Linked DNA regions of Homo sapiens. The protein of the gene in region 1 purifies or fractionates together with the protein of each later gene. This does not show direct contact. Each region holds a gene or a part of one and is shown on either strand. Other genes may lie near its edges.

What was found. Proteins that work in one complex are often made in the same cells at the same time.
Region 2: the proteins of CCDC89 (region 1) and CEP44 purify together in Homo sapiens (co-immunoprecipitation; 3 studies listed by BioGRID and IntAct, with this or other methods). This does not show direct contact.

What each region holds. Positions count from the first base shown.
Region 1 is NC_000011.10:85,683,932-85,687,851, reverse strand, and holds the start of CCDC89 (coiled-coil domain-containing protein 89), read left to right. Parts: upstream 1-1,656; 5' UTR 1,657-1,721; coding exon 1,722-2,846; 3' UTR 2,847-3,920.
Region 2 is NC_000004.12:174,307,911-174,311,481, forward strand, and holds part of CEP44 (centrosomal protein of 44 kDa), read left to right. Parts: intron 1-778; coding exon 779-949; intron 950-1,939; coding exon 1,940-2,146; intron 2,147-2,872; coding exon 2,873-2,948; intron 2,949-3,571. UniProt on the Homo sapiens protein: Centriole-enriched microtubule-binding protein involved in centriole biogenesis. In collaboration with CEP295 and POC1B, is required for the centriole-to-centrosome conversion by ensuring the formation of bona fide centriole wall.

The sequences.
Region 1 (3,920 bases):
GCGATGGCTCATGCCTGTAATCTCAGCACTTTGGGAGGCTGAGGCGGGTGGATCATTTAAGGTCAGGAGTTCAAGACCAGCTTGACCAACATGGTTAAACTCCGTCTCTACTAAAAATACAAAAATTAGCCAGGTGTGGTTGTATGTAATTGTAATCCCAGCTACTCAGGAGACTGAGGCAGGAGAATTGCTTGAGCCCGGGAGGCGGAGGTTGCAGTGAATCGAGATCGTACCACTGCACTCCAGCCTGGGCGATGGAGGGAGACTCTGTCTCAAAAAAAAAAAAAAAAAAAAAAAAAAAGTAGTGTCTGTCATATTAGGGATATTTTTCTCAATTTGATTTTTACCTTCAACATCCACTTAATACACATTTATCTGAATCTCCCCCATGTGCCAGGCACTAGTCTAATCATCAAGGATGAAATAGACACAGTCCCTGCCCTTAAGGATCTTACAGTCTAACAGAGGGAAGCTGGCAGATAAACAGTGACTGCAATAAAATTTTCACATCCTCCACCAGAAGTACAAATAGCTATAGCGGATGCACTAAAAGATGTGAGTGACCAATTGGACATGTAGGGGCCAGGAATAGGCTTCAGAGACGATTCTTAACTAAGAATAAAAAGCTTTACTAGAGTGACAAGGGACAAAGTAGGAAAGGCATTCCAAGTAGAGGAACACCTAAAGATAGGGCGAGAGAGCTGGTTAGTGGATTTGGGTTTGGCTTCAATATTTGGGTTTGAGGAGTAAAATGTCAAGAAAATCCAGTGGAAGAAGGGGCTGGAGAGACCTCAGAAGTCACATAATTTAAAAAATTATACATAACTTTTTGAGTAAGCTTTCCCTTTCTGATCTTACATAATGTTTAAGATAAAAAAAAAATCCTTCCTAGCCCCAGAGATTTGATGTTTACCTTCATTTTCTTCTAGTTTCTGTTTACATTTAACTAATCTATCAGGAGTTGACTTTGGCATATAATGGCAAGCTTCATTTGAATCTTATTTTTTCTGTTTTAATGTTTATCTGTGTGGTTCACTAAGCTTCTTTCTGTAACCTTATTTTGCTAATGGGTAAAAACAGGGGGTGTTAAATATCTAATAAAGAGTATTTATGCCCAGGTGGGGACAATGCTAAGAACAACAAAAGAAATTTCACTGGTGTTTTCTATTTTAATACTTAAATACCAAAAGGGAGCTGTGCCAAACATCACGGGTGCAGATATGCAGGCTTTTAGGGTCCTGGCTCTCAGAATACCACTACTACTTTGTATTCATAGACTGAAATTTTTTGAGGAGCCAACCATGTTTCCACAAACAGTAATTTATTCAAACGATAACTGAAGAGGGGAGAGGGAGGATAAATATATCATTGCCTGCTTCATTTGTTTACTACTACCAGAAATTAGGTGGAGTCAGGCTTCCTCCCCTGATGCTGGCTGGAGATTGAGTGGGGTTGGCATCTCTGTGCTGTACAGGCCAGACACTGAGACAGTTGACAACTGAGAGCTGTGATTGGTTAGAAAGGCAAAAGTAACCCGACCAGATTGGCTCTGGACTCCCCCAGATTCCCCTGTTGTTACTTCATAGCATTCTGAAGACCTGTCCACCAATTACAGGGCTCCTTACTGGAAAAACCAACTGCTGGGGAGTGCCAAGAGTCCCTAGCAACACCCTGCAGCGTTTGAAATCTGAGGGGAAAAGACTGTAGTCAGCCCTTAGTGGATGAGAGCGCCTATGCTCCAGAAACAGCAGGCTCCCAGGATGGACACCCCGCCCCCTGAAGAACGCTTAGAGAAGCAAAATGAAAAACTGAACAACCAGGAAGAGGAGACGGAGTTTAAGGAACTGGACGGTCTGAGGGAAGCCTTGGCAAACCTCCGGGGACTGTCAGAGGAGGAGAGGAGCGAGAAGGCTATGCTTCGCTCCCGCATTGAAGAGCAGTCCCAGCTCATCTGCATCCTGAAGCGGAGGTCAGATGAGGCCCTGGAGCGCTGCCAGATCCTAGAGCTGCTCAATGCAGAGCTGGAGGAGAAGATGATGCAGGAGGCTGAGAAGCTCAAGGCCCAGGGTGAGTACAGTCGGAAACTAGAGGAACGCTTTATGACCCTAGCAGCCAACCACGAGTTGATGCTCCGCTTCAAGGATGAATACAAGAGTGAGAACATCAAGCTGAGGGAGGAGAATGAGAAGCTGAGGCTGGAGAATAGCAGCCTCTTCAGCCAGGCTCTGAAGGATGAGGAGGCGAAAGTATTACAGCTCACAGTCCGGTGTGAGGCCCTCACTGGGGAGCTAGAAACGCTGAAGGAGAGGTGTGCTCAGGATGCCTGCCAGGCACAGGCGCGCGAGAAGGAGCTGCTGGAGCTACAGAGCCAGCAGGCCTGCACCCACACCAAGGAGACAGAACAGCTGCGCAGCCAGCTGCAGACCCTCAAGCAGCAGCACCAGCAGGCTGTGGAGCAGATAGCTAAGGCAGAGGAGACACACAGCAGCCTGAGCCAGGAGCTGCAGGCCAGGCTGCAGACCGTCACTAGAGAGAAAGAGGAGTTGCTGCAGCTGTCCATTGAAAGGGGCAAAGTGCTTCAGAACAAACAGGCAGAGATCTGCCAGCTTGAGGAAAAGTTGGAGATAGCAAATGAAGACAGGAAGCATGCGCTGGAGCGGTTTGAGCAAGAGGCAGTGGCTGTGGACAGCAACTTGAGAGTCAGGGAGCTTCAGCGCAAAGTAGATGGGATCCAGAAGGCCTACGATGAACTCAGGCTGCAGTCTGAAGCCTTCAAAAAGCACAGCTTGGATCTTTTAAGCAAGGAGAGAGAACTCAATGGCAAACTCCGCCATCTCTCTCCATAGGGAAGTTTCTGCTTCCTCTGGCCTGCAATTCAGAATTCAAATATTTGCGTCTTAGCATTATGGCAAGAGTAAAGATGATATCCCATTTATTATACTTTCAAGCACAAAAGGCAACTCAAAGAAAAGCTACTTTACTATGATATTGTTGTTATTATTGTAAAGCCATTATTAATTTTCATTTCTACACCTAGAATACACAAGATTTGCCAGATTTCCTTCTGTGCCTTAGAAATCTTAAATTTACTAGTAGTATCTTCTCCTACCCATAAGTTATTAATTCTCAACCTCAGATATCTTCATTTATGTTAGGATTTTAAATTAGCAGCTTCTATGATTTAAGTCAATCTAAGTGCAGTGAGATGTGCCATTGTGAAAAATAATTAGCACAATTACCCACTGTAGATAGTTAGGCTTATAGTCTCCCATAGTTGAGATTGTAAGCAAACATGTATCAGCATAATAGCATGAATGCTTTGCAGAAAAAAAAAAGTGTCTGACTTTATTTTATTTTGCGCTAGCTTGGAAAATGATTGAGATCAAGTTCTTTAACAAAGAAGGTCAATTTTATTCTGTATGAGCAATATGATTCAAATAAGTTATACAAAACAACTTTTATTTTTTCTGCAAGCTTAGATAATATTCCATTTTTTGGTTTTCTCTTTAAAAAGAGGATTTAGATGTGCAATAATGCAAATATCAGTAGCTTAATTTAATATTGCACGATATGCTAATAGACAATTAGACAATTTGGGGTAACAAATCATAGCAGACGTGATCTATAGAGTAACTCAGAAATTGTTTTGTTTCTATTAGCATATTTTTTGTAATTAAGATTTTCCTTTTTTAAAAAAATCTAAGCTGAACGTGTGTATGTATGCTTGCAGCATTTTTGTAGTAATACCTACATTTTGTAAGAATAGTTATAAAAACATGATATATATATATGTAAAGTTCTTAAAAAAGTTCTCAAAGGTAGTTATATTTTCTTATCTTCCTGTAATTAGGTATTGATATATAAACATTATTATGAATACCTCTCAAAATAGATTGTAATGTAATATTTTTCTCACCCAT
Region 2 (3,571 bases), on another chromosome or scaffold:
CATGTCACGCTTCTCAGAATGACTATTATTAAAAAGTCTAAAAATAACAGATGCTCGTGAGTTTGTGGAAGAAAAGGAACATTTATACACTGTTGGTGGGAGTGTAAGTTAGTTCAACCACCGTGGAAGACAGTGTGGCAATTCCTCAAAGACCTAAAGACCATTTGACCCAGCAGTCCCGTTACTTGGTATATACTTAAGGGAATATAAATTGTTCTGTTGTAAAGATGCATGCATATGTTCATTGCAGCACTATTCACAATAGCAAAGACATGGAATCAAGCTAAATACAATAGCAAAGACATGGAATCAACCTAAATGCCCATCAATGATAGAGCAGATAAAGAAGATGTGGTACATACACACTATGGAATACTCTGTAGCCGTAAAAAATAATGGGATCATGTCCTTTGCAGAGACATGGATGGAGCTGGAGGCCCTTATCCTTAGCATATTAATGCAGAAACAGAAAACCAAATACCACTTGTTCTCACTTGTAAGTGGGAGCTAAATGATGAGATCACATGGACACATAGAGGGAAACAAAACACATTGGAGCCTTTCAGAGGGTGGAGGGTAGGAGGAGGTTCAGGAAAAATAACCAATGGGTACTAGGCTTAATACCTGGGTGATGAAATAATCTGCACAACAAACCCCCATGGCACACATTTACTTGTGTAACAAACCTGCACATGGACCCCTGAACTTAAAAGTTAAAAAATAAATAATTGTGGGAGGAAAACATTGAAGTGTTTCTTACATATTTTTCTCTATGCAGAAGAAAGCTGTGGTGATTCGTCACTTGTATAATGAAGATAATGTTGACATTTCTGAGGATACATTAAGTCCAATAACAGATGTTAATGAAGCAGTTGATGTGTCTGACTTAAATGCTACTGAAATAAAGATGCCTGAAGTAAAGGTTCCTGAAATCAAGGCTGAGCAACAGGTAACAACTTTGGACTTTTTAAATAGATGCCAGTATTTTTTACTTAAATATGTGTAATTATTTCAGCCTCTAAACTTTGGAATATTTCTAGCCTTTTGAATTATTAATCATGACATTTTATCTATGTTACAATTACTGAAGTGTCAATAAGTCTTACTAAAATAATTCAACAAATATTTGCTGCATATGTGTAGGGTGCTGGGCTAAGTGTTGGGGTGATGCAAAGTAGAATAAGATATGGTACTTGGCTTTAAGGAATCTACAATTTAGTGAGACATAGCGATATGCTACTTTGCATAGTGGAGGTTCTCTACCACCTATTTTCTTTATTGGTGAATGGAAAAGATTGGCACTTTATTGCCTATTCATTTTCCTTTCTGGGTCCCTGCTGTTATTTTCTGTCTCTCTTAAAAAACCATTTCTATTACTCTTAATTGCCACAGACCCCAATATGTCTGATCTCTACTGTTTCTGCTAAGACTTCTTTTTCTGTGTTTCTATGTCTTGTGATTTCTATATATCTCAGTATATCAATATACAGTTGGCACTTACAAAAACTACCAGATGGCCATTGGACCTACTTCCTGTTATATGGCAAACCGAACAATCTCAATGCACTAAGTGTTGTTTTTGGTCATTTCCTCTTAGCTTTGTGCTAAGCGTTGTTTCAAGAAGCTAGTTAATAATAGTTTTATTTTACTAGCTGGTATTAAGAGAATCATGCAAATTAACTCATTATCAGAAGAATCATATGAAATAGATACTGCTCTTATCTCTTTTTTTTTAATGAGGAAATGGAGGCATCAAGATCATAAATCTCAGAACTGGTTTAAGTGGCCAAGTAGTCTCCATCCAGAGATAGCTCTCTTAACTCTCAAGCAGGACGGTCTCTCCTAACTGTTGAGATAACGCTGTGGAAGTGAGAATACATTAATTTTAAAGAAATTTCAGTTTGTTTAATTTTATTTTTAATCTCTCTAACCTTTTTAGGATGTAAATGTTAATCCTGAGATTACTGCACTACAAACTATGCTTGCTGAATGCCAAGAAAATCTTAAGAAACTGACTTCGATAGAGAAAAGGTTAGACTGTTTGGAACAAAAAATGAAAGGAAAAGTGATGGTAGATGAAAACACCTGGACTAATCTTCTTAGTCGTGTCACTCTTCTTGAAACAGAAATGCTTTTGTCTAAAAAGGTATTTTCCTCCTTTAACATTTATAAAATATCTCAGATATAACAAAGTTTTTTTTTGATTGTTATATGTGTATTTTTTTGGAAATGCTAAATATGAGAATATTTGAATAATGAGAAAATGTCTAGTTAGAATGAAGTCCTGTTTAAATATAGCCTGTATGTTGTTGTGGCTGTTGTTTCTCTCTTCATTGAATAAGATAATCTGAAAAACTTGTCAGTTGAGCTTTTACAGATGTTAATAATGCTTGAAGAATTTAAAATGAGGTAAGAATATGATAGATATGAAAAGCTTAAAATTATTTTATATCTTTTAATAGTACAAATAACCTATTTTCATAGGGTAGAAAAGATACAGAAGATATAGGTAACTCTTCCCATCTTTTTTTCACTCATTTACTTCAATCATATTGTGAATTTCATAGAATAGTTACCAGATTTACCATTGCCTTATCAAATCTGAGAAATTTGTTTTTTTTTACTCAGGATTTCAATTTCTGGTCTGTCTTTCCTTCCTAGAAGGTGAAGTCAAGTAGCTTGCTATCTGCTTCCATATTTAAAACATTTCTTATATGTAGGAATATGCAGTATATGTATTGCTTTAATAAAAAATTAAAAATATTTAAACATTTATCATGCTACCTTTATATTTTATGCTCAGCATTAAGAATATAAAATGAGAGGGTTTTTCTTTTTATTTCATTCTAAATATTTAACTGTGTTATTCCAGAATGATGAATTTATAGAGTTTAATGAAGTTAGTGAAGACTACGCTTCTTGTAGTGACATGGACCTTCTGAATCCTCGTAAGTTTGTAAATACTATGAGAATTGGTATGATGAGTTTTCAGAAAAATGATTGTTATAGTAATTTTAATATTCTTAAGCTTTATTGTTTAGAAATTGCAAAGCTCCTAGAACAAAGAACATAATGAACCTACAGACTACTAAAGCCAAGAATTGCTTAACTAACCAGCCTACTTATTTCACATAACATAGTGGGTGAATAAATTTCAGTGTACAAAATTGAAAATTTTTAGAGATATTTTACTGTTTTAATCATTCGAGAATAATCAAGTGCTCTAGGATATTAATGTTGGCCTCCAAGTTTTTAAATTTAAGCTTAGGTAGGTAGTAGCTTTCTCATATGTAAATAATAATATGTAAGAGAAGAAAACACATTTGTCAGTATCTATAAAGTATTGCAAACTTCTTCCATGTGAATAGTTCACTGATAATGATAAAATGGGAAAGATCTGATATTAGGATAGGTCTTTTCCTGGTCACTTTACTAGGCTACTGATATTTTGCTTAGTGTGACTGAGCAGCAAGGGTAAGATTTCTGTTTTTCAGTGACAGCTTTGTTTTGATTGTTATGTATTTTTAAAAGATCTAAATTTTGTGCCATATCTATGATTAAATCATAGCTA